2 separate regions of the Homo sapiens genome follow, and region 2 is linked to region 1. The links come from fine-mapping of genetic effects on gene expression. A gene starts in region 1. The other region holds a variant in brackets. All regions are shown on one strand. Distances are between the middles of the regions.

Evidence for each region.
Region 2: its variant is fine-mapped to the expression of CHURC1 in whole blood (INTERVAL, PIP above 0.99).

Annotation. Positions count from the first base shown.
Region 1 is chr14:64,906,782-64,924,340 of GRCh38, reverse strand. It overlaps CHURC1 (churchill domain containing 1), which reads right to left and starts at 9,886. Exons shown (of 4, transcript NM_001386928.1): 1 at 9,807-9,886; 2 at 215-350. The coding sequence starts at 9,845. It overlaps CHURC1-FNTB (CHURC1-FNTB readthrough), which reads right to left and starts at 9,980. Exons shown (of 14, transcript NM_001202559.1): 1 at 9,807-9,980; 2 at 215-350. The coding sequence starts at 9,926. It also overlaps the pseudogene RPPH1-2P. RefSeq lists enhancers at 9,617-9,886, 10,037-10,086.
Region 2 is chr14:64,926,541-64,941,255 of GRCh38, reverse strand. All of the region lies in intron 3 of CHURC1-FNTB (CHURC1-FNTB readthrough), which reads right to left. CHURC1 (churchill domain containing 1) reads right to left here. Exons shown (of 4, transcript NM_001386928.1): 4 at 5,888-9,118. The coding sequence ends at 9,026. It overlaps GPX2 (glutathione peroxidase 2), which reads left to right. Exons shown (of 2, transcript NM_002083.4): 2 at 1,418-2,098. The coding sequence ends at 1,768. Among named protein-coding and RNA genes, the nearest start is that of GPX2, 8.8 kb to the left of the region's middle. RefSeq lists an enhancer at 12,182-12,251 and a silencer at 14,578-14,715. The variant G/T (reference allele first, on the strand shown) is at 6,279.

The sequences.
Region 1 (17,559 bases):
GTAAGCTTTAGTTATCTGCAAAAGTCATTTACATAGACTATTTGATATCCCAGATAAATGAGGTGTTAATGACATTTTCCTCTTAAAGACCTAACTAGTAATTATGTGCGCAATACAATATTGAAATAGGCCTCAGAATATTTTGTGTAACATATCGACTTCCAAAAGCTGACACCTGCTAACACACTCAGGTTAAAAAATAAAGTCTACTTACGATCATAGGTAACTATTTCTTCTCCATCTTCTTCTTTCAAGGATTTGTTTGTGATCAGCATAAAATCCCGCTTACTGCACACTGCACAGCCTGTAAAGTTCAGTAAGAAAGATCCATTCTCCAGGCAGGTATTACCCTAAAATATCAGAAACAGGAATTTAATTTCTTTACATTTCAAAATCTTTAGTGAAGATGATTAACAGACTTAAAATGTCTAAAGGCAAAACAAAACTAAAAAATGGCCAGCATTTACTTCTAGGTCATATACCAAATAATTTTTGAAATTACTAGCTTTCCTAAAGAAGTGTTACTCATGTTAAAAAAAAAAAAAAAAAAAAAGCAACTAAAGTGCAGTGTTAGATCCTTAAGTCTGTAAGGACTGCCACTATGTTGAAAAGGGAGGATAAACTGAAAATAGATATTTAGAAACAACTTAAGGAAACCTTAATATAAAATATGAAAATAGAAAATTAGAAAAATTTAATAACCAACAATATTAAACGAGGCTTACCAACTAAAATTAAATTCAATCAAAATAGAAACTGAGTCAATGATAAAGATGATCTTACATAGATGTTTAGTTGTTTGTTCAAATAGTTTTGATCCTTGATCATAATACAAAATAAACAAAAGTAAACTCTCAGCTCTATAGATGTCAGTCCTTAAGGATACACATGATTGAGGCAGAGAAGCTTAAGTTCTTCATTTCGTAAGACTGACACAATGGCATTTAAGAGAGAATGGGTTTTACATCTTTACTAAGAAACTATACAAATTTTCAAAAAAAGTTTTTAAAAAAGAAATTCTAAATAACTTATGCTCCTGGCTCAAAGGAAGCCTTTTTTTTTTTTTTGGTAATTGAGATGGGGTCTTGCTATGTTGCCCAGGCTGGTCTCAAACTCCTGGGCTCAAATGATCTTCCCACCTCAGCCTCCCAAGTATTGGGATTACAGTTGTGAGCCACCGTCCCCGACCCAAAGGAAGTCTTTGCTAAAGGCTAATAATTAATAATTAAAAGTCACTTTATAAATAATCTAGTCCAATCCCATTTCTCAGCAACACACTTAAAGAGTATTTTTAAATAATGTGATTAAAAATCACTCAAATCAACGTTTCTCCAGTGCATCTGTGTCTGATATTGTGCAAAGCACAACAGAGGATTCAAAGATGAGCCAAACATGTTGCTACCTTCAAGGAGTTTTAAGAAGCATCAGCGAAATTAAGATCCACCATAAATAATGCCACTAGGAAGTCTTTCTGGATTCCAAGCACCAGAATTAATCTCTCCCTTCTATGTATTGAGGAAGAGATTAATTCTGGTGGGAGAATTAATCTCTCCCTTCTATATATTGAGGAATCTCTCCCTTCTATGTATTGAGGAAGACATTAATTCTAGTGGGAGAAATCAAGACATTACTACATAGTTATTAAATCATAGGTGTACTGCCTTAACTACTAAAAGGGAAAAGGGCCTTAGGATTAAAGTATACATTTCCAGTTATTAAGAACAAATGCTTTGCTTTGATTTTTTTTTTTTTTTTTTTTTTTTGAGACGGAGTCTCGCTCTGTCACCCAGGCTGAAGTGCAGTGGCACACTCTCGGCTCACTGCAAGCTCCACCTCCCAGGTTCATGCCATTCTCCTGCTTCAGCTTCCCAAGTAGCTGGGACTACAGGTGCCCGCCACCACGCCCTGCTAATTTTTCGTATTTTTAGTAGAGATGGGGTTTCACTATGCTAGCCAGGATGGTCTCGATCTCCTGACCTCGTGATCTGCCCGTCTCGGCCTCCCAAAGTGCTGGGATTACAGGAATGAGCCACTGTGCCCAGCCTTTGATTTTTTTTTTAATAAAATCTACTGAGGTACAATTTACATACAATAAAATTCACACACTGTAAGGGTATACATAGGTGAATGACTTTTAACCAATGTATATACCCATGTAACCACTACCCTAGTGAAGGTATAAAACATTTCTATCCACCCCAAAAAGTTCCTTCATGCTTTTCAGTCTATCTCTAACCTCCATCCCACCCCAGACACCCACTGATCTGATTTCCATCTCCAGTCTTGCACGTTCTAGAATTTTATATAAACAGAATCAGTATACTCCCGCATCCAATTTTCCTTGCTCGATATAATGCCTATGTTCATCATCACTGTTGTTCTAGGTACTGGTAGTTTGTTGCTTTTCATTGCCAAATAGTATTCCCTGTAGGATTCAGCTGTTGGTAGATATTTGGGTTGTTTCCATTTGGGGCTATTATGAATAAAGCAGCTATAGAGATTCATGTGCAAGTCTTGGATGGATACATGTCTTCCTTTCCCTTGGGTAAATATGTAGAAGTGGAATTGCTAATATGGTAAAAATATGGTATATTTAACTTTACAAGAAACTGCCAAATGGTTTTCCAATTTACATTCCTGCCAGCAATGTGTGAGTTCCAGTTGCTCTATAGCTACATCAATACTAGGTACTGCTTTTTATTTTTGCCATTCAGTGACGTAAAGTGGTATCTCATTGTAGTTTTAACTTTTGTTTCCTTGATGACTAATGATGTTGAGCATCTTTTCATGGTGCTTATTCATGTATCTTCTTTTATGAAATGTCCATTCAAGTCTTTTGCCCATTTTCAAAAAGTTAGGTTGTTTATTTTGAGTTGTAAGAGTTCTTTATATATCTTAGATACAAGTTTTTTCCCAAATATATTTTCTCCGTCATTGATTTGCCTTTTTTGATGGTTTCTTCTAATGAGCAAACAAGTTTTGATTTTCATAAAGTCCAATTTAACATTTTTTCTTTTATAATTTATACTTTTTTTCTCCTAAGACATCTCTGCCTACCCCAGGGTTGCACAAAGTTTCTTACATTTTTTTCTAGAAGTTTTATAGCTTTTAGTTTGTAGATTTAGGTTTATAATCCATTTTGAAATAATTTTATATATGAGGTAAGGATCAAGGTTTATTTAGTTGCGTATGGATTTCCAGTTGTTTTGGCAAGATTTGTTGAAGAACTGTCTTTCCCCCCACTGAATTACAATGGTGCTTTTGTAGAAAAAAGTCAATGACCATATATATGTGGGTCTGCTTTGACTATTCTGTTCCCTTGATACATATATCTACCTTCCCACTAATATCAAACTCTCTTGATTACTATAGTTTTTATAGTTAGTCTTTAAATCAGGTAGTTTATGTCCTATAATCTGGCTATTCTTGGTTCTTTTCAGTTTCATGTAAATTTTAACATGAGCTTACACACTTTACAAAAAAGTCTACTGGAGTTTGAATTGGGACTGCCTGGAATCTATAAAATCTGACTGCCAAGGACTCCAAAAAATTAAGGAAAACAAAACAGTTTTTAAAAAGATCTAAATGCCAATTTCAAATAAATATAACTCTGAACTGGACTGCATCCACAGACACAGGTTCCTTGCACAACGTGGCCTAGCCTCTGTAATCTGACCATGAAAGTAGGCTGAATGTGAGTCTAAGAAAACACTGAAGGAAGAGAAGTATCTATGTATCTGTTGTCTGGTAAGTAAATGCTTCAAATGGCAAAATACAAGTACAGTATATAAGAAGCGGATGGGACTTTCTTTAAGAGCCCTGGTCATTTGAAAGCAGCAAGAGTAACCTTCATCAGTGAGGCACAGTTCTTTTATTAGATGAGGCAAGACTATTAACATCCAAATTTGGGAAAGTAAACTAAAGCACACATTATTCAGGGAAGGTTTTCAGGCTCCCATAATAGGTGGAAAAGAATGCAATTCAAATCAATTCCACAATAATAACAGTAGACCATAACAGCTTAAAGAAGGAAAAAAGTCGACATGTTTAGTACCCTTAGAAAATCTGATTCAGATAAATCCTGGTTAAGGATTTGTAAAGGTATACAAGTGTGCAAGAAGAAATGGCTGAAAACTGTAAGAATAATTAATATGAGAGTATGTTATAAAATCTTACGAGAAAGCTGTAATTATTCTGATAAAGACTGGATCAATTTTTTTTCCAGCAAATTATTTCAGATGATACAAGTTAATAGCTAATGTATATATTTTGCCAGGGAATGTTTAAAAATGGAAAATACGGTTTTTCTTAAAGAACCAATTTTTTGTTTCATTGATTTTCTCTACTGTATTCTCTCAGTATTTTCTACTCTGATCCTTATTATTTCCTTCCTTCTGCTTGCTCTGGGTTTAGTTTGCTCTTTTTTTTCCATTGTCTTTTTCTTTTTTTTTCTTTTTGAGACATGGTCTCACTCTGTCACCCAGGCTGGAATGCTGTGGCGCAATCTTGGCTCACTGCAACCTCCGCCTCCTGGGTTCAAGTGATTGTCTCACTTCAGCCTCCCAAGTAGGTGGGACTACAGGCACACAAAACCATGCCAGGCTAATTTTTGCATTGTTTGGTAGAAACAGGGTTTCACCATGTTGGCCAGGCTGGTCTCAAACTCCTGACCTCCAGTGATCTGCTAGCCTCGGCCTCCGAAGGTCCTGGGATTACAGGCGTGAGCCACCATACCTGGCCCATTTTTCCATTGTCTTAAGTGGAAGGTTAGGTAATTGATTGAAAAGTATACTTTTTAAATATAGGCACTTATAACTATAAATTTTAAGATGCAGAGTATCATTTTAAGGCACTCTTACATACAACTGTTTTGCTAATTATATATTACTCAGCATTTAATTAAATCTGGTTCAATGTTATCTACTAAGCAACAACTTGAATATATGAAGTTTGGTAGCTTAGCTTTAAATGACAAATACAAAACAAGTAATTTTAAACATATCACTAACATTGATTTTTTCCCACTGATTCATAATGTATTTCTGTATTCCTGTTGCATTACTAACAAAATTTCAAGCTGAAATTAAAATATATGAAATGTTTCATTTCCAGTTTGATATGAAAAATATTTGATTACAATTTTGTGCCTGTTCAGTAATTTTAGAAAATGTAGTAGAGTTCTAGTTCTGACTGGTTTGCTAAATGCTTTTCTGAAGGAAAAAAAAAATGTGGTTCACCATTGAGTTAAAAAACATTTGGGTTCAGAAAATTAGTATGGTTCATTCCAACTTGACTCATGTTTGAATTCAAATTCTCAGTGTTAACAGTATAAGCAAGTAGGCCAGAGCCCCATTAAGAATTCAGTACTATATATTTCTAGTCTGTAAAAATAAATGACAAAACTCCAAACAACTTTATGTAATCGAAGATAAATAATTAACTATTACTTACTCATTCTACACTTAGAGCTTCCCAACAAATGATTTTTTGTTTGTTTGTTTTTTTAAGTAGACAGGGTTTTGCTCTGTTGCTCAGGCTGGAGTGCAGTGGTGTGATCTTAGCTCACTGGAGCCTCGAACTCCTGGGTTGAGGGAATCCTCCTGCCTTAGCCTCTTCCCAAGTAGGTGGAACTATAGGCACACACCACCACGCCTGGCTAATGTTTTTTAATTTTTAATAAGGATGGGGTCTCACTATGTAGCCCAGGCTGGTCTCAAACTCCTGGGTTCAAGCCATCCTTGTGCCTCGGCTTCCCAAAGTGTTAGGATTACACGTGTGAGCCACTAGGCCCGGCCCACCATCTTCTTATTACCCTTCCCTTTGCTAAGCTTCTGCAAAGCTGAGCAAAGCAGTGGGCTTCTGCTCTTACTGCACTTAAAAATAGGTCATGACTTCAAAGAACCCCAGAGTTGGAAGGATCCTTGACATTCCAAATGGTCAGTTAGTCTCTACTGAACAATAGGAAGAGAGCTTAATTCCTTTAAGAGTTACTCATTCCATTTTGAAATGTCAGAATGTTCTTTATTCTGATTCAAAGTCTAAGACCCGTAACATCCACCCACTAATTATTTCTAAATCTGCCTTCTAAAATTCCAAAGAAAAGTTTAATTCTTCTTCATGACAGTCTTTTAATTATTTTAGAACAGAATAAAATCAGAGAAAAGTGCCTTTGAAAGGCACTCTCCTGGTTTTCCAATCACCTCGATCCCTTTTTCTACTATTCTTCCTTATACTTTATTTTCATTTCTGAAGTTAATTTAGTCTTTGGAGCTCAGTCCTTGATTCTCTACATTTTTTTCCTCAGAGAACAAATCCTATTTTGACACTTGTATTTGACTGACTCATCTATCTACATAGTTGTACCCAAACTGCAGTCTTATATCTTCACTTGACCCTTCGGATATTCTCAACCTCAGGTGAAGCATGATATTAATAACAATTTGACCATTTGTCCCCAATTTTGTTTTTTCTTCCCATATGCCTCCAATTTCTGTAATGATACTTCCAACATCCCAGTTGCCTAGATTGAAAATCCTGAGATCATGTGATCATGTATAGGTCTCCCCTTATTCACTTCTACATTAAACAGGTTGAATCTTGTTAATTCTTTTTTTTTTCAACAGGGTCTCGCTCTGTTGCCCAGGCTGGAGTGCAATGGCACGATCATGGCTCACTGCAACCTCCCACCTCAACCTCCAAGTAGCTAGGACTACAGGTGCATGCCACCACGCTTGGCTAATATTTGTGGTGGTTTTTTTTTGTTTGTTTATTTGTTTTGAGACGGAGTTTTGCTCTTGTCACCCATGGTGGAGAGCAGTGGTGTGATCTCGGCTCACTGCAACCTCTGCCTCCCAGGTTCAAGCGATTCTACCGCCTCAGCCTCCCAAGTAGCTGGGATTACAGGCGCCTCCCACCACACCCAGCTAATTTTTGTATTTTTAGTAGAGACGGGGTTTCGCCATGTTGGCCAAGCTGGTCTCGAACTCCTGACCTCAGGTGATCTGCCAGCCTTGGCCTCCCAAAGTGCTGGGATTATAGGCGTGAGCCACCGTGCCCAGACTATTTGTATTTTTTGTAGAGACAGGGTTTTGCCATGTTTGAGACTGGTCTCAAACTCCTGGGCTCAAGTGATCCACCTGCCTTGGCCTCCCAAAGTGCTGGGATTACAGGTGTGAGAACCGTGCCCAACCTAATTCTTTCTTTGAAATAAGGTCTTCATTATCTCATGCCTACACCACTGTTGCCATGGCTCCTCAAATGCCCTGTGGAGTTCTGTCTTTACACACCCTCTACCCCACCATTTCAACATTCAGCCATAAGATTCATTTTCCTAAATAACAGATTTCAGAATCATTTCTCTATTAAAATTTTGATGGTGGCCCAATGCCTAAAATGTAAACTCTAAACTTCTCAATATGACTTTTAAGTTTTACAATAACTCCACTCTTAAGAATCCAACCTAAGGCCCGGCGCGGTGGCTCACGCCTGTAATCCTAGCACTTTGGGAGGCCGAGGCAGGTGGATCACGAGGTCAGGAGATCGAGACCATCCTGGCTAACAAGGCGAAACCCTGTCTCTACTAAAAATACAAAAAAATTAGCTGGGCATGGTGGTGGGCACCTGCAGTCCGAGCTACTCGGGAGGCTGAGGCAGGAGAATGGCATGAACCAGTGAGGCGGAGCTTGCAGTGAGCCGAGATCATGCCACTGCACTCCAACCTGGGCGACAGAGCAAGACTCCATCTCAAAAACAAAAACAACAACAAAAAAGAATCCAACCTAATCTCTTTAATATTCTCTACTGCAAACTCCTCCCTCATGGTCTCATAATAGCTCATGTTTATTACTGGTTTCATAAAAATCTTTTTAAACTTTAAAAAAATGAAATAGTACATAGTAAAGTACATGAAACATAAATGTAGCGAACAAGAAATGATTATAAAGTGTACATCTGTAGAACCACCACCCAAATCAAGAAATAAAACACTGCTTGCACCCGGGAAGACTTTTTCTCATGTGACCCTTCTTGATCACACCCTAATCCCTTAGGAGTAACCACTATCTCGACTTAACAGTAATTGTATACGTTCCTTACAGTTTTACCACCCAGGTACATCCTTGAATAATATATTTTGGTTTGCCTCTTTTTGAATTATACTTTATGTGTTCTTTCATCAACACTATTTGTAAGACTTTTCAGGCTGCTGTGTAATTCTAGTTTGGTTTCACGGCTATAATTCAGGGTTTCTCTACCTCCACACTATTGACATTGGGAGTGATACTTTGTTGTGGTGGCTGTCCCATGTATTGCTGGATGTTTAGCGGCATCCCTTGCATCACCCATTAGCAGTCAGTAGTACTTCCCCTTTTGACACCCAAAAAATGTCTCTGGATATTGCCAAATGTCTCCTAAGAGCCAAAAATCACTCCTGGTAGAGAACTACTGCTCTAATTCATTCACTTCCATTCCTCATTCATTAATGGTGTTCCATTCTAATGAATGTATCAGTTACTTTTCCAATCTACTACAAAAATAATGCTGTTATGAACACTTATTTATAAAAGTCTTCAGAAGCATATACACATGCATTTTTCTAGAATGGGAATCACTGGGTCATGTCTGTATTTTATAAGGCTCACCCGCTTTTTCAAAGTAGTTGTACTACAGGAGAATTCATACTGTTATACATGCTACTCAAAAGCCTAAGTATTACCCATAAGATACTAAGACATAAGGAACTACAGAGACTTTCTCCCTCCTTCCCAACCAATGCACAAATTCCATTTCTGTAATTTTCCCCCATCCTCCAGCTCCTCACCTTCTTTTCTACCCTAATTACAACTGTCCTTCAAGTCTTAGATGATGTCCACCTTTTCTCAGGGGAGAACAGCACTATCCCCTATTGCCCTCCCCTTTCCCTAAACTTGAATAGCATTTCTGAACTGAGCTACTCATTTTTTGTTAGTCACATACTCCCCAAAACTGTAAGCTGTTAGGCAGCACCAAAGGTGCCTTTTAATTTCTTCTCTGAAACAAATAATCCAGCTGGACGTGGTGGCTCATGCCAGTAATCCCAGCACTTTCGGAGGCCAAGGCGGGAGGATCACTTGATCCCAGGAATTTGAGACCAGCCTGGGCAACAGCAGCACCCTGTCTCAAAGAGAGGAGAAATAATCCCTTTCTGGCCTAGCAAAGTAATCTAACTACACATATATAAATGTTCAACAAGGATGCCTTGAATGAATGAGAATAGACAAGCTTTGCAAACTCCTGAACCTGAAAGTAACTGAGATTCAGAAGGCGGTAACAGGCAGGAAACCTAAATTCTAGTCCTGGCTCTCATCCATGCAACTAGAATGTGAACTTGGGCAAGTGATTTCCCCTCTCTGGGCATCGGTTTCTTCATCTGCAAAAGTGTTAGAACAGATGACCACAGAGGTCCCCTCCAGCGCTAGAATTCGGTAAGAAAATTGTACTTCATCAAATCGAGCTTGAGGATGAGACCGGAAGTGGGGGTGGGGGAGTCCCTCGGTTGTCGACGGGGGTTGTGGTGGTGGTGGGGTTCCTCTGTTGCTCCTTGGAGCTCAAGAGAACGGCCACTACAACTGAGGTCAGCCGCCAGGGCGGGTACCAGAGGTGCAGACCGCCACAGGCCATCCCTGGTGTGCCTAAATACCGCTACTGGGTCACCGGGACCGGCAGTGCGGCCGAGTCCGCCCCACGTACGGCCTCTCTGGGAAGGCCAGCCTTGGATATGAGACACCTCGGGGGCCGCCCGCGGGCCAAGGGAGCGCCCAGTCGCTCACCCGGTTGGGATATTCCTTCTCCACACAGTCGCCACACATCGCGACGCAGTCAACAGGGAATGTCCTCCAACGCTTCCGGGAAGACGAAACCTCGCGAGAACTGAGATACGGTTGCCGCATGCGCCCAAGTACTCGACTCCTGGGTATTCCGTCTCGGGAACCGAGCCGAAGTCTCCGCCCCTTAGCAACTGTTGTCAAGGCAGGGCACAGTCTCCTTGGCACCGTGCGTGGGCAAAGGGTGGGGCTTCAGAAACCTTTGGAGACAGACGAAGAAATCTTGTGCGCTAACAGATGTGACGGGAAGGGAAAGGGATCTTGGGCTGAGCGAAGTTCTCACAGACACCTTCCTGAGCTTAGGCTGACAAGAAAGGCAAATCACGACACACAAGAAAGGGAATTATTTCTCGCTACCGCATATACAAATCTGAAATGTTAATGAATACATTTCTGTACCATTTCTTAAGGCAATGAGAGTGAATAAGAGACCAGATCTCAGCAGGTGAATAAACAGTAACCGAAGTGTTTGGGAAGAGACACTCAGAGTGCTGCAGAAAATCTCCTAAAAAAACACTTAAAATATTAGTAATAATTGGTCATTCCAGAGTCCTCTGGAGGACATAGCAACGAGGAACGTATTTCTATCTCTCTCAGGTGTCACAGAAGCACCTCAGTGGCGGGCAAGCACTATGTAAATAGAAAAATGGCCAGGTCATCAGCCATCCCATTACTGGGTATATACCCAAAGGATTATAAATCATGCTGCTATAAAGACACATGCACATGTATGTTTATTGTGGCACTATTCAGAATACCAAAGACTTGGAACCAATGCAAATGTCCATCAATGATAGACTGGATTAAGAAAATGTGGCACATATATACCATGGAATACTATGCAGCCATAAAAAAGGATGAGTTCATGTCCTTTGTAGGGACACGGATGAAGCTGGAAACCGTCATTCTGAGCAAACTATCGCAAGGACAGAAAACCAAACACCGCATGTTCTCACTCATAGGTGGGAATTGAACAATGAGAACACTTGGACACAGGGTGGGGAACACCACACACCGGGGCCTGTCGTGGGGTGGGGGGAGGGGGGAGGGATAGCATTAGGAGATATACTTAATGTAAATGACGAGTTAATGTGTGCAGCACACCAACATGGCATATCTATACATAGGTAACAAATCTGCACGTTGTGCACATGTACCCTAGAACTTAAAGTATATTAAAAATAAATAGATTTCAAAAATTATCTAATTGAATTGACTGCAGATATTTTGATTTCAGATTTGCACATCCATTTATAAATGACCTATTGGTTCACAGATTAAAAAACCAATAAACATATGTGCTTCCAAGAAAAGAAAGAAAGAAAGAAAAATGGCCAGGTCAGTTGTTCCTGCATCATTTCCCAATCCTGTGGGTCTCAAAATGCTTGTGCTTGTTGCCCCGCCTCATCCTTTCTCTCTGTATTGAAAGCATCTTATTTATTCGCAACGACCTAATTAACTTGCAGACGAATCTCCGAAGTTTGTCTCTGTTTCTGAACAATGCGTCTTTATCACACTCCTCTACCCCAATGGGAACATCAACATCCTCCCTCAGCCCTGCTTTATTGCTGTCATGTCAGGGAAGAAAGATTGGGGAGCCTGGGAGACTCTGGGATCCAGATTCCTTAAAGAAGAGATTAATAACCATTTCAAAGCACACCAGTTTAAATGGGTTTGCTAATATGGGAATTATTTTTCCACGGAAGCACTGAAGTTGTAACCTTTAGTATTTCAACTTCTAGTAAGTATCTGCAACTGTTATTAAAAATCATAGGTGTGCTAAGAAACACTGCAAGAACTAGAGCCATCAGAGTTTACCTTATTCTTAGAATAATTATAATACCTCCCATTTGTATGACATTTTCAACCTTTCAAAAGTGTCCTCATTTCAGTTTCTAATTTTATGCTATTACAATCCTATGTGGTTGGTAAGAAAAATATGTCTCCTCTTTTCAGATAAGGAAACCACAGAAGTGAGTGGTTAAAGGTCTTGTCTATGGTAACAAAGCTACTCAGTAGTCAGCCAGGGCTAGGACTCTGTTGCTATCCTTATCTCAATTTCTTTCTAATACAGTAGCACTAGCCACTTATGGCTATAAAGCACTTTAAATATGGCAAGTTGAACTGAGATTGTGCTGTGAGTACATTCTGCACACCAGATTTGGAAGATTTAGTATTAAAATATATAAGAATCTCATTAATAAATTTATATGATTACGTTGAAATAATTTTTGACGTACTGGGTTAAATAAAAATGTATTATTAAATTAATTTCACCTGCTTTTTTAATGTGACTACTAGAAAATTAAAAATTACACATGTAGCTCTCATATTCCTATTGGACAGGGCTAGTCTTTTTTTCTTCTCTCTCTCTCTTTTAAGGCAGTCTCACTGTGTCACCTCGGCTGGAGTGCACTGGCATAGTCTCGGCTCACTGCAACCTCTGCCTCCCAGGTTCAAGCGATTCTCATGCCTCAGCCTCCCAAGTAGCTGGGACTACCGGGGCACACCACCACAACCGGCTAATTTTTTGTAGTTTTAGTAGAGATGAGGTTTCACCATGTTGGCCAGGGTGGTCTCGAACTCCTGGTCTCAAGTGATCCACCTGCCTCGGCCTTCCAAAGTGCTGGGATTACAGGTGTGAGCCACTGCACCTGGCCCAATTCTTTCTCTTCATCCATTTTTAAATGGTTTCTCTGTTTTTAAAGCCTAATACTGACTTTTAATCCTTTGCTACTCCCCAGCTACAATTTAGTCTGAGAGATAAAATGAGCACAAATACTAATAATTACTGGCAGATTGGGGTATAAGAACACAAAATGATGAGACTACACCCAGGGGGAGGATTAGGAAAGAGGAATTTGGGCCTTAAAGCATGTTTAGAATTTCAAAAAGCAGAGTTTTGTTTTGTTTTGTATAGAAATTTCAGGTGAACCATGCCAAGGAGTTTGGATTTTATTCTGCATGTGGTAGGGAGCAACTGAAGGTTTGAGCAGGAGAGTGTTGCCAGAGTTGTGGTTTAAAATTATTTTAGGCTGGGTGTGGTGGCTCACACCTGTAATCCCAGCACTTTTGGGACGCCAAGGCAGGAGGGTAGCTTGAAGCCAGGAGTTCAAGACCAGCTTGGGCAACATAGTGATGACCTCAAAAAATTTTTAAATTAGCCTAGTGTGGTGGTGTGCACCTGCAGTCCTAGCTACTCAGGAGGCTGAGATGGGAAGATCTCTTGAGCCTAGGAGTTTGAGGCTGTAATGAGCTATGATCATGCTGCTTGCACCCCCGCCTGGGCAACAGAGTGAGACTCTGTCCCTAAAAAATAAATAAATAAAAAAGATTATTTTAGCTGCATTTTATTGGGACTTACTGGAACTGGGAAAAAAATGGACATGCCAAAGGCAGACGTTAGCAGGAACCACAAGGGGGAGATGTATAGCTTTCTGCCTCATCACTGAGAATATACACAACAAAAATAAATTAATTAAAAATTACACTAAAGTCATAGATCTTAAAGAGTACACCCATTAGCATGAATTGATTTCATATTCTAAGGCATGAAAGACAATCTACATATTTATGAAATTTTTTTACCTTCCCAGAGTTATATCATAACTTGTTATTAAAATGAGCAAGATAAAAAAAAAAAAAGGTCGGCCGGGTATGGTGGCTCATGCTTGTAATCCCAGCACTTTGGGAGGCTGAGGCGGGTGGATCATGATGTCAGGAGATCGAGACCCTCCTGGCTAACATGGTGAAACCCTGTCTCCACTAAAAATACAAAAATTAGCTGGGCATGGTGGCGCATGCCTGTAATCCCAGCTACTCAGGAGGCTGAGGCAGGAGCAACGCTTGAACCTGGGAGTCAGAGGTTGCAGTGAGCCGAGATCGTGCCATTGCACTCCAGCCTGGGCGACAGAGCTAGACTCCATCTCAAAAAAAAAAAAAAAAAGTTGTCATATTTATGGTCACAAAAGCTCAAGAGCTCAGGGCTATCTATCCAATGAAGTCCTCCATTTAAATCTAGCCACATTCAGAGAAGAGAGGCAGGAAATGAGACTTGGGGGAAGAGGTAGCCAGGACCAGAAATTAAAGTGTGACTGTGGTAATGGGAATATAAAAGTATCTGAGGTTGACAGATGGGAGAAAGGAAAATAGAGGCTACAAAGCAGAAGATTAGCACCTGAATGAAATGAACAAGTAGTGATGTAACATAAGAAAAACAATAAACAGAAAAATATTTTCTCTTATAGGTAACTATATAAAATAAAATTTGCAAAATCAATTTTATCTTCTAATAGAATTTTCTCTGGGGAAATACCCTGCCCCTATGGGTCTCTAATAAATATGTGATGTCCATGAGATATATCAAACAAACCATGTTGCAGTTTACGTATGAGATCACCTCTTGTAAAAGGAATTGATTAAAGAAAATCTAAATGTTAAAATGGCCCTAATTGCTGGCTCAGTTACATGTGCTAAACTACATCCCTGTGGTAAGATGAAAATTTTCCCTAAAGAGTGCAGTTTGACTCTCCTTTTAACACCTTCTTTCTATTTTTTCTTTTGTCTTATGCTGTCTTAAGCCAAGAGTCTGAAGTGATGACACAATGCTGATCATATCTATTATTTTCATCTTTTGTTGAAAGGAGCAAATAAGTGCCCCAGCCTTTATGGTAGTATCCTCAGACCCATTTCACAGATGGAGTAGAGGAAGCTCATCTGCTTGGTGAAGGTATAGGTCATTCTTTCCATTGTTTCAGGGAAAGTGTGAAATAAGAGTCTGTGGTTGTCATCACCTGATGTCACCTGCCTGATATGAATGAATTAGCAGCATTTCTGGGTTAACCCAGTGAATACAGGTGAGCCTGGCTGAGGACAGGTACAAAAGCACTCCTAGAAGTTCAGGGTCAGCAGGTTTTTTTCTTAGCTCAATGGGAGAGTTAGACTTTCTTCCCTTTAGGGTTCTCCTGCCCAACTTCAGGCTACTTCCCCTATTCAGATGATAAACTCAAGCCTTTCAAGCACATTTATTTATTTTTTGCTTTTTAAAACTTTATTTCAACATAACTATGCTTACAGAAGTACAGTCATATTGGCTAATAGAATGCAATTTAAGTTTAAACTTACCCTGTACAATTTGAATAAGAAACTTGGTACGTGGTTTAGGATTTTAAAAATGATTTGCAGTCTGGTTTATTTTTTATCTATTACAAATGTATAAAAGACCCTCCATCAAATTCTGCTAAAGAAGGCAGCAGAAACTTGAGAAAATTACCTTTGGTTTGTCTTAGAAAAAAAACAGGCATTGCACTGCTTAAGTTTATAAAATTGGTGCAAAAAAAAATTGTAATGCTTCAATGCCAATTTAGAAAGTTCAGTTACCAATGGATATGGAAATGGGTGTGAAGGAGCCTATATACACATGTGAAACTGTAAATATCTGATTTAGGTAATATTGCCTGTAGATTATAAATCTACACACACCAAGATTCATATAATTTCTCCAATCTGAATTAACACTATCTGTTCACTTCATCTGCTGAGGTCAATCAGGGAACTGGACACAGTAGTTGTTTTTCTGATGTATGCAAAAAAGAAAATGGAATTGTTTCGTTTGCTTTTCAGTCCAGAAGTCAGTATACTATGGGCAAGGTGTTCCTTCCGTTGTCAACATTCGTAGAGTGACAAACAATGAGGTCTACTTGGGTTTTAATTTGTATCAGCACTCATATCCAAAGCAGTCTCCAAAGTTAATGAACACATGACTTTAGAAGTGACTCCAAAAAATAAAATGGCCCTGCTTAGAAGATTAGAGCAAAACATTCAGCAATATTTATAAGAAGCCTTATCAAAAAATGCAGCCCCTTGTGAATTACACCTCAGTATTAAAAAGTAGCCCCCAAATAAGAAGTAGCTCTGAAAAACAAAGAGGAAAAAATGTAACTTAAAATATCTTAAAAACCAGCAGGGTGCAGTGGCTCACGCCTGTAATCCCAGCACTTTGGGAAGCGCCAAGGTGGGTGGATCACGAGGTCATGAGATTGAGACCATCCTGGCTAACACGGTGAAACCCCATCTCTACTAAAAAAAAAAAAAAAAAAAAAACTTAGCCGGGCGTGGTGGCGAGCGCCTGTAGTCCCAGCTACTCAAGAGGCTGAGGCAGGAGAATGGCGTGAACCCGGGAGGCCGACCCTGGAGTGAGCGGAGATCACGCCACTGCACTCCAGCCTGGGCGACAGTGCGAGACTTCGGTCTCAAAATAAATAAATAAATAAATAAATAAAAATCTTAAAAACCAATGTGAATATAGGTTCAAAAGATGATAGTTAAAAGAGATTCATTTTCTTAAGACTACCTAGGATTAAGACTTATAATGTATTCTAGTATTTCAAGTTTACCGCTAGTTACTAAACATAAATTTACAAATAACATATCCATTTTTTCAAACATATAACACTTAAAAGCAAGGGAATAGCCATTATTTCCCTCTGATTCTGTTTTTTTTGCTCTCCTCACTTTTTTTCAAATACAGATTATCATTTCCATATAAAGTTTTCACCAGGTATGTCGAAATCTCTTAAATGGTAGCTTCTGGGGAAATATTCTCTCTCAAATCTTGCATGGATTGGGGTGGATTTTTTAATATTTTATGTATGTATGTATGTATATAGAGATGAGTCTCACTGTGTTGTCCAGGCTGGTCTCGAACTCCTGGGCTCAAGCAACCCTCCTGCCTCAGCCTCCCACAGTGTTGGGATTACAGGCATGAGTCACCACAACTAGCCAGAAGGAATTTAATAATCAAAATGCAATTGGGTTTCAGATATTTTATTGTGGGTTTTTTCCCCCGCAATGTGTGCCTCAAGGACATAGTAAGACTTAGAGCAGACTTTTATTCTCTTTCACCTATATGGACTCTGAGAGGTAAAGGAGTTTGGAATTTTTAGAGAAACCGGGGAAGTGAGGAAAGGGAAGTCAAGAGACTTCTGTTTTGTCCTGGAGAATGGCTAGCAGATGGAGGGTTTACTTCAAGGTAACCCAGGCACAAAATCCATAGAAATCAAAAAACTTGGGTAGTGTTGAAAAGAGTAGTTTTGACTTGGAATAGAGAAGGGGTATATAGAAGCTGCAAGGAATATTTGGAAAATAACATGGTGATTTACAGTTAAAACATTAGATTTTAGTCCTCATTGTAACTTAATAATTCAAGGACCCTAAACAAGTTGCTTATTGGCTGGTCTTCAATTTTCTCATCTGTAAAATAATGACAATAATAAATATACCTACCTCATTGGCTTGCTTTATAAAATGATACACAAATGTTTTCGGTATATGTGTTTCTACATATGACTTAAGGGTTTTAAGAAAAGTAACTCTGGCCTTAAGCCTGAGGTGGTAGAAGGGAGGATAATAAATTAAGGAAGAGGACTGGCAATAACTCAAACTGCCCGATGTGTGAATGTGTGTCTGCTGAAGTGGATAATATGAGACTGTGTACTTTAACAAATTTGTACAAGGTGATTTGTGTGTAACTGGAAAAACTGAGTGAGCATGTTGTGTTGGAGAGGATGCCGTGGTAAAAGGGTCGTGTTAGGGAGGGAAACCACGGGAGATGGAGAAGGAGAAAGGCCAGGCTCCTCCAGGAAGTGGATTTGGAAAGTTACCTCAAGGCACAAAGAGAAAGGGAGCCTTCCTTGTAAGT
Region 2 (14,715 bases), 18 kb before region 1:
TTTCTACAAAAAATTGCAAAAATTAGCCAGGCATGGTGGCATGTGCCTGTAGTCACAGCTACTTGGGACGCTGAAGTAGCAGGATCGCCTGAGCCTGGGAAGTCGAGGCTGCAGTGAGCTATGATTGTGCCACCGCACCCCAGCCTAGGTGACAGAGTGAGGCCCTGTCTCAGGAAAAAAAACAGAAACAAAAACAGAGAAGTCCACTAGAGATCAGCTCTGGGCTCATGATGTCATGATGGCCTGGAACTGACTGAACTAGTTAGTTCTCACAGGTCAGAAGCAGGAACTTTCTCCCAGAGGAAGGTATCTGTCTGTTAAATTGGAAAGGTAGAGGTGGAAAAGAAGGGTTCCCATAGGCCTTTTGGATTGTCATGAATGGTGATGCTGAGAGGGAATAGGACAGGGATGGCAGTGGGGAGGGAAAGGCAGGGACCAGGTTTTGAGCCAAAGCATGCGTAGCTGAGAGCAGTGAGTGGATAGGAGGTGCAGCAGTCTTTGGGTAGCAGCCTACTCAAGAAAAGAATGATAATTACATACTCACAATCTTTAGCCATCAAGCACTTATTTCCTCAACTCCCCCTCCCCCTGGCCTATTGCCAAACCCTAAATCCTGTATCCTATTTACTTCATGCCTGTTGGTTACTAAGTAGTTCCATTTAGAGTACACATTCATTGTTGCCTTGAACTTGCTCTGCTGTTATGGCACCTGAAAACTAGATGTTCTTGGATGGGGGTCTTCCTTCATCAAAGCTTCTTCCCATTTGTACTTCAGTTCTAGGACAAGGCAAGAAGAAAGCAAGAAGCTGTAAATCCCATTCCTCTGGGTCTCAATTTCACCCTCAGTTCAAGGAGCTGAGTAGGCAGAGGCAAAGGCTATACTCAACACACGTGCAATTGAAAGCAGGCGAGGCAAAACCAGGGCAGAGGAAAGGAAAGGGGTGTGTGTGTAGGTATGGATTTATGGGTAGGTGGGTCGGTAGGTTAGTTGAAGAGGAGGTTCTAAGCAGTATAACCTAAGCCTCTTTTCTCTTTCTTCTGCTTCAAACACCTTAAGAACTGCTCAGGGTAGACTGGAGACAAAAGCAACAGCTCAGAAGTGCTAAATCTTGAAGAGCAGCCAAAGCATGGGCAACAAAGTGAGACCCCATCTCTACAAAAAAAAAAAAAAATTAGCCGGGCATGGTGGCCTGTGTCTGTAGTCTCAGCTACTAAAGAGGCTGAAGCAGGAGGAATGCTTGAGCCCAGAAGTTCAAGGCTGCAGTGAGCAACACCTCGTCTGTCTTGTCTCTCTCTCTTTCACAGTGAAAAAGAATGACCCTGGGGAGGGAGTGTAGGAGGGTGAAAGAGTTTCATGTTGTGGATCTTTCTCTTCCCCCACCCACTGTCCACGCACTTTGTCTTTTTCCTCCCCTAGGAGAACTGTCAGAATGAGGAGATCCTGAACAGTCTCAAGTATGTCCGTCCTGGGGGTGGATACCAGCCCACCTTCACCCTTGTCCAAAAATGTGAGGTGAATGGGCAGAACGAGCATCCTGTCTTCGCCTACCTGAAGGACAAGCTCCCCTACCCTTATGATGACCCATTTTCCCTCATGACCGATCCCAAGCTCATCATTTGGAGCCCTGTGCGCCGCTCAGATGTGGCCTGGAACTTTGAGAAGTTCCTCATAGGGCCGGAGGGAGAGCCCTTCCGACGCTACAGCCGCACCTTCCCAACCATCAACATTGAGCCTGACATCAAGCGCCTCCTTAAAGTTGCCATATAGATGTGAACTGCTCAACACACAGATCTCCTACTCCATCCAGTCCTGAGGAGCCTTAGGATGCAGCATGCCTTCAGGAGACACTGCTGGACCTCAGCATTCCCTTGATATCAGTCCCCTTCACTGCAGAGCCTTGCCTTTCCCCTCTGCCTGTTTCCTTTTCCTCTCCCAACCCTCTGGTTGGTGATTCAACTTGGGCTCCAAGACTTGGGTAAGCTCTGGGCCTTCACAGAATGATGGCACCTTCCTAAACCCTCATGGGTGGTGTCTGAGAGGCGTGAAGGGCCTGGAGCCACTCTGCTAGAAGAGACCAATAAAGGGCAGGTGTGGAAACGGCCAGCCTGTGTGTGTGTTCTTTGACAGAGGGCGGAGGGAAGCTACAAACTGCAGGTGGGATAGAGGAGCTGCTAGCACACAAAGCTTTGGGAGGGGAGGATCTGACGGATCAAGGGATGCCCTAATTACTGACAGGAAAGCAAGCGCTGGCCAAGGTCTGCAGTGGCAGGTGCAGTTACGGGAAATGTGAATTATATTATTCCTTTACAGCTCTTCTTCAGAACTGGGGAAAAAGAGAAAGTGATAATGGGAGGTAGAGGAGGAAAAGACAATGAGCCCTTTGGTTGGGGATATTGGGAGGCTGTTAGGAGGATTACAGTCAGGAAGCATCAATAGCACTGTGGGTACTGGGCCAACTAGATCTGACTTGTGCCTTGGGAAATTCCTGGGCAGTCAGCTTAGTTAATGTTTACCAATAGCAAGGGCATAGAGGGTGTAGTTACTGAGAACACAAACAGCACTTTATCTTTTTCCTGATCATCAAACATCTCGGGTGTTTGATCCTTTGCTAGACTGATTCTCCCTCCTTTTTAAAGTTCATGGCCCGGGTGTGGTGGCTCACACCTATAATCCCAGCACTTTGAGAGGCCGAGACAGGCGGATCACTTGAGGTCAGGAGTTCGAGACCAGCCTGGCCAACATGATGAAACTCTGTCTGTACTAAAAATACAAAAAATTAGCCAGGTGTGGTGGCGCACGCCTGTAATCCCAGCTACTCAGGAGGCTGAGGTGAGAGACTCATTTGAACCCGGGAGGTGGAGGCTGCAGTGAGCCAAGATGGCGGCGCCACTACACTCCAGCCTGGGCGACAGAGTGAGACTCCGTCTCAAAATAAATAAATAAAGTTCACATTACACCCTCATTCTTCTCAAAATCACATATTCACAAATTCAGGCTCCAGACAAATAGAGGCAGGAATGACTGGACTCATTTCTTCCTCTGTAAGAAGGAAGGGGTTGGGGATGGGAGAGAGCCTCCCTTCAGAGTCAGGCTGTTTATAATCTGCCATTTGCAACATCATTATTCCTCACTGTGAGGACAGTTTTGCTCAGAGGCCTTGCAAGGATGGTGTCCCCAATTCCTCATCCAGTGCAGACATAATCAAAACATATCACCACCGCCAAGGTCAGGTTCTATCATGTTCTGGAAAAGATACCTGCTGAGAGGCCACTGCCTGTCACCTTGCCCCACAGACCTCATCCTGGAAACTTCTCATTTCATCTTCCCTTCTTTGACCACTAGATGGAATATTTTCACTTCTATTCACTGAAACCCTGAAGGGACAGTTTTCCAAACTGGACACACTGCTTGAGAAGCCCAATGCTGAAGGGAAAATGTTTTTCCTTTAATTGTTCTGCTTACCCTAACCATTTTCTAAGCACTTGCATCATATGAGAGTGAATGTGGAATAGATGTTTAGGATCCCCACTTTCTGACCTTCAACTAAACCTGTCAACAACAGTGCTTTATTTCAAAAGGGTAACCTGAGTATTACAGTGGGAATCCCCTGACACCTTTCTGCAGGGCCTTCTGCTAACTTAAGGCTACCCTTACCTTCACTCTTGAAACCTCAAGCCTTTCAGATTCCTGCTCTTAAAGTCAACAGCTGGGGTATGAATTATTATGGGGCAGGACCATGTACTGATTTTAGAGCAGTAACTGCAGACAAATTGCTTTCCTGACAAAATAGAGAATTCTTCTTGGATGCTAGTCATCACCTTGACAGTACCATAGCCTGTTGTTACATCCAGTAACAGAGCCAGCTATCTCGGGTGTTGGAAACATGCCACAGGCAACTTAGAGCCTGAGACACCAGTACAATGTGTTCAGTCTTTCCCTTGAGGCCCAAGTTCAAAGAATTATTTAGGGATTCCCAAAGGAATGGGAATTACAGTATAAGTTATTCTGCAGAAAGTCAAGAGAAGGCCATAAAGCTAGAATGAAGGCTCTTCACTTGGGAGGGGAAACACTATTTGCTTCAGACAGAACCTGATCTATTCAGCTCAGGAGGAAACAGGGAAGGCAAGACTGGAAGATTCTATTTTAAAAGGATGTTTAGGTTTACCAAATATTTAGTTGTGCTGTTGTTAAAATGAAGAGAAATTAGAAAGTGTTTCCTTTCCTTTATTCTTCATCTTGTTTGTCCCCCTTATCATCCTCAGAAGTATTAGCTTGTGATCATAAACAGACAAGGCAAAGCTTTAAAATATCACCCACTTTTCTAGATAAACAAAAATCTTTTAATCAGATTTCCCTAGGGGCACCCAGAAGGAGGGGGAAGTCTCCTTAACAACTCTCCCAGAAGTGCTGAGATAATGCTATTCAACTCAGAGGAGGGACAGAGAGAATCACTAACCTGAGGGCTCTTACAAAAACAAAAAACAAAACAAAAAAACCAGAGCTTGGAACAAGTGATTTTAGGAGGCCAGGGTAAAGACACTGAAATCGATAATTATCTTCATGACTATGTTCCCATAGCTATCTCTCCTTAGTTTATGAGACACTGAGGCCCAGTATGGTGGCTCAAGCCTATAATCCCAACACTTTGGGAAGTTGAGGCGGGAAGATGGCCTGAGCCCAGGAGCTCACTATGTAGCCTGGGCTACACAGTGAGACCTCGTCTCTACAAAAAATTAAAAAAAAAAAAAAAAAATCGGCTGAGCATGGTGATGTACACCTGTAATGGTTTCAGCTACTCAGGCAGCTAGGGTGGGAGAATTGCTTGCGCCTGGGAGTTCGAGGCTGCAGTGAGCTATGATTGCACCACTGCACTCCAGCCTGGATGAGACCTTGTCTCAAAAACACTGAGTCAAACTCTAGAACTTTATTATAATCACCATCACAACCATCATCCAAACTACCATTCATTTAATATTTACTATGGGCACAGACTGGGCTAGGTACTTTATATACACTAGGTTATTTAACCCTCATAGAGATCCCATGAAAAATTGTTATTTCTATTAAAAGAAAAGGTAATTGGGCAAGACACTTGCCAAGGACACACAGCTTAGGAAGCAGCAAAGCTGAAAGTTAAAGCCAGGTCAGTCTGACTCCAAAGCCTCTACTCTTAACCATAACACAACAGTGCTTTCTTCTAGCTCAGATTTTTCTTCATAAAGACCACTGACAGCTGCCTGCACACAGCATTAGATTTAAAAATCATTAGATTTAAAAATTCTGTGGAGGCATGATGGTTTCTAGTTTTCCACTGAAGACACTGAGGTACAGACAGGATAAGTGACTTGCTCAGTGTCCCATCATTAGCAGGTGACAAAGCTAATTCTAGACCCAGATCTTTTAATTCCTTTTCTATCCAACTATACTGTATCTTACAACAGTCTTGTACTACAGTAAAAAAAAAACATACATTTTTAAATTGAGCGCCTCAAATAACTAGCCCTGCTCACAACATGAAAGAATGAAACCGAAAGGACTTTTGATACACTGAAATAAAGGACAGTGAACATAAACCTCTTCATGGTAACTTACAAATAACAAGCCATATCTGGTTGTGCCCAAGCTATCTGATGTCAATTAAATTAGTACTGGGAGAACCTAAAACCATGTGAGAAAGAGCTAGATCAAACAAAACAACAAATAGTGGCTGAGCTTTTAACTTCAGGAGCCTAACTAGCCAGACCTGTACATCACAGAATGATTAGAGAAAAAGGAGGTGCCAAGATAAGCCCACGTTTCCAATTATCCCCATGTTTCCAATTATCCCCACAGGTGATTTCTCTTCCTTCTTATATCTCAGGAAGGAAAGTAAAAAGAAGAGCCATGTTTTGCCTAATTCCTTTTTTTTTATTTTATTATTATTATACTTTAAGTTTTAGGGTACATGTGCACGATGTGCAGGTTAGTTACATACGTATACATGTGCCATGCTGGTGTGCTGCACCCACTAACTCGTCATTTAGCATCAGGTATATCTCCTAATGCTATCCCTCACCCCTCCCCTCACCCCACAACAGTCCCTAGAGTGTGATGTTCCCCTTCCTGTCTCCATGTGTTCTCATTGTTCAATTCCTATCTATGAGTGAGAACATGTGGTGTTTGGTTTTTTGTCCTTGCGATAGTTTACTGAGAATGAAGATTTCCAATTTCATCCATGTCCCTAATTCCTAATTTGAACAGAAAAATAAGGATTCTGTGAAACTGGGTTCAAGTGGTC[G/T]TTATTAGATCCACATAAGAATCTAGAAAATGATAAAATATCACAAAACACAGCACAATGTGGGTTCACCAATAATGAAATATAGAGAGAGGATCTTATGTTTTAAATTTTTGTAACATATAGTCCAAAACAAATAGATAATTATACATTCTGCAATAGATGAGGACATTGGCAGGGCATATAAAATTAGACTCTTGGGCTTCAAATGACTAAGTTGGAAGCATTAGCAAACTCAAGGAAGGGACAATTCAGAGGCTATAATGGGCTTAATGCTGCTATTTAAAGTAATGAAGCATTTTCTCTGCTTTCTGGATTCATTTCACCAAACGATTTCCTCAGCAGGTCAGATATAGATTTGCAGCAAAATGAAAAACATTTTCCAGGAATAAAACAACTGATCCCTGCAACAGCTGACTTAACTTTTCTGAATAATAAATCTTCATCTGACATGCCCAGATGCCTCAGAGTACTGTCACTGATATTCTTAACCTCTTCCTAACCTTGCCAGATCCTTGTATTTCATATTTGCCAAACATAATTACTGAGAGGGGGTAACTGCACTAGCTGTGTGATCTTAAACAAGTTATTTAACTTCTTTTTTTGTTGTTGTTTTGTTTTGTTTTTGTTTTTGAGATGGAGTCTTGCTCTGTCTCCCAGGCTGGAGTGCAGTGGCATGACCTTGGCTCATCACAACCTCCCTGTCGCGGGTTCAAGCGATTCTCCTGTTCAGCCTCCCATGTTGCTGGGACTGCAGGTGCATACCACCACCCCTGGCTAATTTTTGTTTTTGTATTTTTAGTAAAGACGAGGTTGCACCATGTTGGCCCGGCTGGTCTCAAACTCCTGACCTCAGGTGATCCGCCTGCTTTGGCCTCCCAAAGTGCTGGGATTACAGGGGTGAGCCACCGCACCCGGCAAGTTATTTAACTTCTTTGTGCCTGAGTTTTTTTGGCTCTAAAAGTGCTACACTGAAATAAAGAATAGTGAATATAAACCTTTTCATGATAACTTACAAATAACAAGCCATATCTGGTTATGGCTAAACTATCAATAGCACCTACCTTATGAATTTGTTAATGAGGATTAAATAAGTGCTTAAAAAGCTCTTAGCATGTAGTAAGTACTTAATAAAGCTCAGATATTATCATCATTACTGTTATTCAACAAAGCTTTTCCCTAGTATCTACAATGAACACTTTGCTCATTTCTTGTTCTTATAAGACCTTAGTTCAGAATTTCCAAATCTCCTAGATATGAAGAAACACTTTTGTTTCTAATGCCTGACCCTTTAAATTTAGGTCTCAGAATGAGCACTAATTGAAGCCACCTCATTGTTTCTAGTACTTTACATGCTTTCTAAAGTATCTTACATTCACTAATTCATTTAAATCTCCTAACAATACTGTGATGAATGTATTATATCAATTTTTGTTAGTCCAATTTGATAGAAACAGGACAATAAAGTCCAGAGTAATGCTTTGCTTAATGACTATACTGCTACTAAATGGCAGAGAGGCCTAAATGCCAGTTTATAACCTCCTGGCCAGTGCTCATGAAACTATGCAAAGTAAGATATTCTAAAATCCCTTTAAAGCCAATGAAACCATTTTCTCATTTATATTAACTGAAGTCCACACTGTATTCAGATTTCCCTAGTTTCTACCAAATGACCTTTTTTTCTTTTCGTGGTATATAATTCCATGTAGGATACCACATTACATCTAGCAGTCATGTCTTCTCAGGCTCCTCTTGGCTGTGACCATGTCTCAGATTTTCCTTGTTTTTTATGGCCTTGATAGTTTTGAGAAGTACTGGTTAGGTATTTTAAAGAATGCTTCTCAATTGGAATTTGTGTGATGTTTTTCTCCTGATCAGACTTGGGTTCTGAGTTCTGGGGAGGAGGACCACAGAGGTAAAGTGCCATTCTTATCACATTCTGTATGATGTGATGCTATCAAGGATACATGCTATCAAAAGGGCTTATCATGGATGATGTTAACCTCAATCACCTGGCTGAGCTGGTGTCTGTCAGATTTCTCCACTGTAAAGTTACTCTTTTCCCCCCTTTCCATATTATACTCTGCAAGGAAGTCACTATGCAGAGCCCACTAAGTGGGGAGTATCTACATAAATTATTTGAAATTCTTCTGCACAAGAGATTTGTTCCCATTCAATCATTTATATTAGTTTGGGCTTGTAAATATTTATTATATAGTTTGGGTTATAACCCAATACTACTTTATTTTGTTACTCAAATTGCTCCAGCTGTGGCCTTTCAGAGATCCTTCAGTTCGATCATGCTGACATACTCCCAATCACTATGATTTTTTTTTTTTAATTTCAGTACTTCATTTTTCTGTGGCACAAGATACTCTAGGCTCATCTTGTACAGTTCATATCCCAGTTCTAGAATCAGTTCATTTTCTAAGGAGTCCTGGTTCCTTTTATTGGAAACCAAAATCTGGGCACCAGGTGTGCTCCCATTCTAGTTGTTTTCTGACCACATAACTGCTAACAAAGATGCTTCACTCTGGCTACACTGATGTGAACTTTGAACTTTAGCAGAAGAGCTCAGCTCTAGAGAACAATGAGCTCCTACATTACCTTTTTTCCTCAAAGAATAAGTAAGTCTAAGCAGAAAAAAAATATGCAAAGAATTTTCAGTATGAATGAAATAAGACAAACCATCAGGCTTGCTGTATTGTAAACCAACACAATATAGTTATAACAGATCTGTAGAAGGATCCTTAGAATAAGAGAGTCATTTGTCGGGGGTCATCAGGGAGAATACTGATAGTATCTTCGGCTTTGCCGCATAACAGACACAGCATGGTATACTCCTAGAACAAGATAAAGTGCATAATTACCTAGAGGAACAGGGAAAAAGATGCTTTATAACTTACTCTAGTTAAGATGTTCTCTACAAATTGTCATGAATATTCTTTCTGTACATTGGATCAATTTCTTCAACATGTATCAGCAATGTCTTAGGCTTATTCTGTATATTCCAGAGCCTGTTGTTTATATAAATTGATACATAAATGTCATCTTGGAAATACATGGCTATTTCTCAGAAAGCACATATATTTAGCTTAGTGCTATTTAAAGTAATGAAGCAATTTGAGTGTGGGTCCCTATGGACAAATTCCTATTCTTACAGCTGTTCCTTTCTAGCATATTTAACACTAATACACAACAGAAACAATTTTTTGAAAGGAGAAAATTCCCAAACTGAAAAAGCTATTTTTATCTACCCTAGGAAAATAAACAATTATGTTAAATTCACTAGTATGTCCTGCCTCATTTTCAGATGGCTAGTTGTCTGGGAATTTGATCCATTTAAGAAGTTTGTTTCCCAGGCTTAATAAATGCCCAGATTGGTAATAGAGGAGATTTTGTTTTAGGCAAAAACCCTTAGGGCAAGGTCCTTTTTCTTTTTTTTTTTAGACACGGTATCACTGTGTTGCCCAGATTGGAGTGCAGTGGTGCAATGATGGTTCACTGCAGCCTTGACCTCCTGTGCTCAAGTGATCATCCCACCTCAGACCCCCAAGTAATTGAGATTACAAGCACTCGGCATCACGCCTGGCTAATTTTTAAATTTTTTGTAGAGATGGGGTCTCACTATGTTGCCCAGGGTGGCCTCAAACTCCTATGCTCAAGTGATCCTCCCACCTTGGCCTCCCAAAGTGACAGGATTACAGGTGTGAGCCACTGCATCCAGCCCAAAGTCCTATTCTTATAGCTTTCCCTTTCTAGAATATTTAACAGTCATAAACTACAGAGACATATTTCTTTGAAACCTTTCATTTAAAAGCCTTTTTCTCTGTACAAAAACAAACATCTATGTTAAGTCTTCTAGAATTTCCACACCTGATGCTAAGTTTGCTAGCTGTCTGGAAATTGATCAGTCAAGGCAGTTTGTGTTTCTTAGGTTTAGACAGTCACTAGAGAGGGCCACAGAGGTAAACAATGACTGTGGTACAAAGAAATAGAAGCAGGCAACTGCCTTTTCCATCTTCTACTGGTGAGTTCAGGAGGGGAGCTTAGTTGTGGCAGTGGAAAGATGGCTTTATGAATTAAAAATAAAATAAAAATACATCCTCTTCAAGGTCTTTTACTGTTCTCAAATACTTCCACTGCTTCAACCCACCAGGCATTGCTATTTGGATGGCAACCTTTTACAGGAAAAGAAGAAGGAAAAAAGTAAAGAGTCAAAAAGAGAAAATGTGTGAGGCTAAACAAATACTTGAGTTTTCAACCAATCTAGCCATTGACAAATTTATACTGAGTGCCTACATGCTCTGCAATGTGCTGGCAGACATGAAAGAACAAAGTCTGACTTTATACAATCTGCAATCTAACTTGGGAGGGGGAAAAAACCTAACATATAATCTGGCAAGACTATTAAATCAGTGAGACTGATTACACCTGTAATCTTTATAGGCAGTCTGGAACCCAAATTTCATTGCAAGTCAATTATTTGGAATTCAAAAGCAATTTCCCACAGAAGTAATGTCATACATGGCGGTTAGGTTCCCAGGAAAATCCACAAGTCTTTTAAATTTATATTGTTCAAGCACCATAGAATCTAACCATATATAGAAGTGCTTCTGTGGGAAAATATGTCTAGAATTCTAACTTGGGATGCCAGGAACAGATCTCCTCGTGCTGCCAGGAATATGATGAGATTAGGACACCTTTTATCAAAACCAGCCAAGTACAGAAAATAATTCCCCCAGTCATTCACAGGGACTCTCAAAGGCTCCAACTGGGCAGGGCCTAGGGGAAAATATTTGGAGGGAAGAGCAGAGTGGGCGGAATTACCTCTGAGTAAGACCAGATCTTTTTTTTTTTTTTATTCTGAGGGCTTTACTTTTTTCTCTATTAGCTTTACTCTCTTCCTCTATTAGTCCCTGTTAATTCTGACTCCAAGTCTTCTCCTTCCCTGGCCCACAGAGGAATAGAAAGCAGTCTCATAGTTTCTGTCTTGTTTCTTGAAGTAAACACACAATTTTGGTGTGTGTGTGGGGGGGGGCTTTTGCTAGGAGGGTTTTTTTTTTAAATAAAGGATACCTATAATAATTTATCATGTATTTTCCATGTAAACTCTGTCCCTCTGTCTCCACTTTCTCCCTAGTCTTGCCATCAGAAAATCCTACTTTGTTTAATAATGGCATTATGGTTGTTTTAAAAACAGAATACTTATCTTTCAGAGAGACTAATGAAGTATTTAAAGAGGTAGTGATACGTTTGGAATTTGCTTTGAAATAATCCTATGGGGGGATATGAGAATGGTGAAATATAAATAAAGCAACTTGAAGATGGGTAGTGTACATTAGTACACTATTCTGCCTACTTTGGACTATGTTTAAATCTCCTATAAGATGTTTAATATAAAACAACAATGGTGGCTGGGAATCCCACCTTGAACTTGAACTACTGCCAGGATAGGATGAGGGGCTGGGGTAGGGTGGGGACAAGGACAGTAAGTAATGGCAGCTGAGAATGGAGGGTTCTTGTGGCCATTAGGCTGAGGTAGAAGTTCCCAGGTGGCTATTCACTAGAGTCAGGGCCTGACATAGGTACAAGAAAAGTTCAGAAAAGGGAGAAGATGCATAGGCTTGAAGAGCAAAGAGGAGATGGAATTTGAGTTCAGGCAGAAAGAGGTAAGATTTAGTTGGCTTGAAGGTAGAGAGAGGGAATATTCAAATCAAGGAAAAGGCATGAATATGGACAGCAATATGGAAAAGAGCATGCGCATCGCTTACGGAGTAAAAGGGAAAGGAAGCTACATTTGGTTTGTCAGCAGGGGAGTGGAGGATGACATGTTTAAGAAGATTAACTTGATGGCAGTGTGCAGAACTGCAGTCTGGGGAATGCTGCAGTAATTCAGCCTTCAATGGTTATGGTCCTTGACATGAGGTGTGGTGCCAGAGTCAGAGAAAAGGCAAGCAAAACAAAGAAAAAAAAGAGGGGATGAGGGGTGTAGGCACGAAGGCTAGAGAAGGAAATGAGAAAGGTATCTAATAGGTCTCTACTGAGACTGAGTACATGTGTGTTCACTACAAGAGAGAGCATAAAGAAGGTTCCAGACCACAGAACAAAAGCTGAGGAGTATCACTTCGAGAAAACAGGAAAGAAAACTAAGAGAAAACACAAAGGAGCAGTTAAAATGATTTAAAAAGGAAAGAAGTCAAGCACTTTGGACCTCAAGGGCAGAAATGCTTCAAAAAGACAACAATAGTTAATAAAACTAGATGCAGAAGCCATGTAAGAGAGAAAAGAACTAAGGCAGTCACAGGATGTGGTTAGATTATAGGAAACGTATGAGAGAATAGTTTTAGCACAGAGAAAATGAAAATCACTTTGTAGGTACTTAAGAGGAGTATAGGAAAATAAGGAAAATAGGGTAAAGACCCATTCAAGTGGCCAGGTAATGGCTCACACCTGTAATCCCAGCACTTTGGGAGGCTGAGGCAGGAGGACTGTTTGAGCCCAGGGGTTCAAGACCAGCCTGGGCAACCAAGTGAGATCTCATCTCTACAAAAAAAATTTTTTAAATAGCCATGCACAGAGGCTAGTGCCTGTAGTCTCAGCTACTCGAGGGGTTGAGGCAGAAGGATCGCCTGAGCACGGGAGGTCAAGGCTGCAGGGAGCTGTGATCAGGCCACTGCACTCCATCTTGGGCGGCAGAGTAAGACCTTGTTGCAACAAACAAACAACCTGTTCAACTAAAGAAGCAAGAGGAAGAAGAAATGATTACAGGATGAATCAAAGTACACTGGAAAGAAAGACGATAACATGAGATTCCTGAGGAAATGCAGTAGGGGTAGCATTAGAGAGGGGTAAATAAAAATCTTTCTCTCTAACAGGAGAGAAGGAAGAGTAAAGTTGGGACAATGCTAAGTATGGTGTACATATGAAAGAGTAGCAGGAAATAAAAGAAGGGAAGCTGGGCCAGTCCAGTGAGAACCTTGAAATGAGGAGCTTGGATATTGTACTGTAGCTAAAGGTGCACTATGGGAAGGCCAATGAGGTCACCCAAAAGTATTTATTTTTACTTTTTAGTAGAGACAGGGTCTCACTATGTTGCCCAGACTGTACTCAAACACTTGGACTCAAGAGATTCTCCTGCCTCAGTCTCCTGAGTAGCTCGAACTATAGGCACACACCACTGTGCCCAGCTTTGAAAACATTATTTTAAGAAAATTAATATGATGGTAGAGTATGGAGTATGAATTGACGGCGGGGGGGGGGGTGGGGGGAGAAGTAGACTGGGAGTAGAGAGTCTAGTTTAAGAATCATTTTCACCACCATTTCATAGTTTCTTGCATCGTGACTACAAGCCACCTTCCTTTACCTTCTTCCTGTCCCAGAGTAATTTCCAGGGCAGCTTTGAAAACGGCTGCATTCAGTCAAAAAGGAAAAATCAGCTAGACTTTGGTCTAGCTAATTTACAATGGCTTGGTTAGGACATAAACAGGCAACCTCAATATCCGTTCAGGAGCTGTACATAACTCACGTGAAATTCAGGAGTGTCTTGAAAATAGCTATAAGCACTCCTTTCCTCCCATAAAAGAATAGGACTGTTTCTTTAAGCCCAGGAGATGCTCATCTCCCTATGCGGCCACTACTCATTCACTAAGATGTCAATTTTGCCCTAAGTTACGCATATCATATAAATATTTCTTGAGGCATAATTTTTGGATGCTGAAGAAATATAAAATATAGTCAAGATGTTATTTTAGATTAACCACAACATATCAGACCAGACTCTGACAGGTGACTAAGCACTTTCTTCCATGCTAAAATAAGGAATAAGAGGGGTTTTACTATCTTATGATTCTGCTATGGAAGATTATTATTATTTTCCTAATTAAGTACTATCCAAATGTGAAGGGAATTGAAAAAATTCTCTCGGCTGTTAAAAGCTCTAGCCTGATATTTATATCCTATGGACAAATATGTAGTTCACACAAAATAAGTAACTCAACCTGAAGGCTTGAAAACAGGCAGTGAGGGACAGAGATAGGTTTCAGTTTGTCCCTGGCTCTCCCCGACTGCCCAGCTTTTCTTTCTGACCGTCAGACCTGTGTATCTTCAGCAACTACAGGCCTATATCAACCTTCCAGAGAATTCTTCACATACTCTCACAATTGTGTAAGGATTAATCCTTATGATAAATCTCTTAATCTCCAGCTTCACAGTGGTTCTGTGTTTCTCCTCCAACCATGGTACACACAGCTTGTAATTTTACTTAACAATACTATAATGTCTTACCACAAATGAGACTGCAGAGTTGTTCAACTCTACATGTCAACTTGGGAAAACAAAGAAAACCTCCTTATCACAGTTTCCATGCTGGGCAAGTATGGTGGCAGTTGACAGGACACCACTTAAAAGCCCACAACTGTGCAATCACGTAACTGGGCAG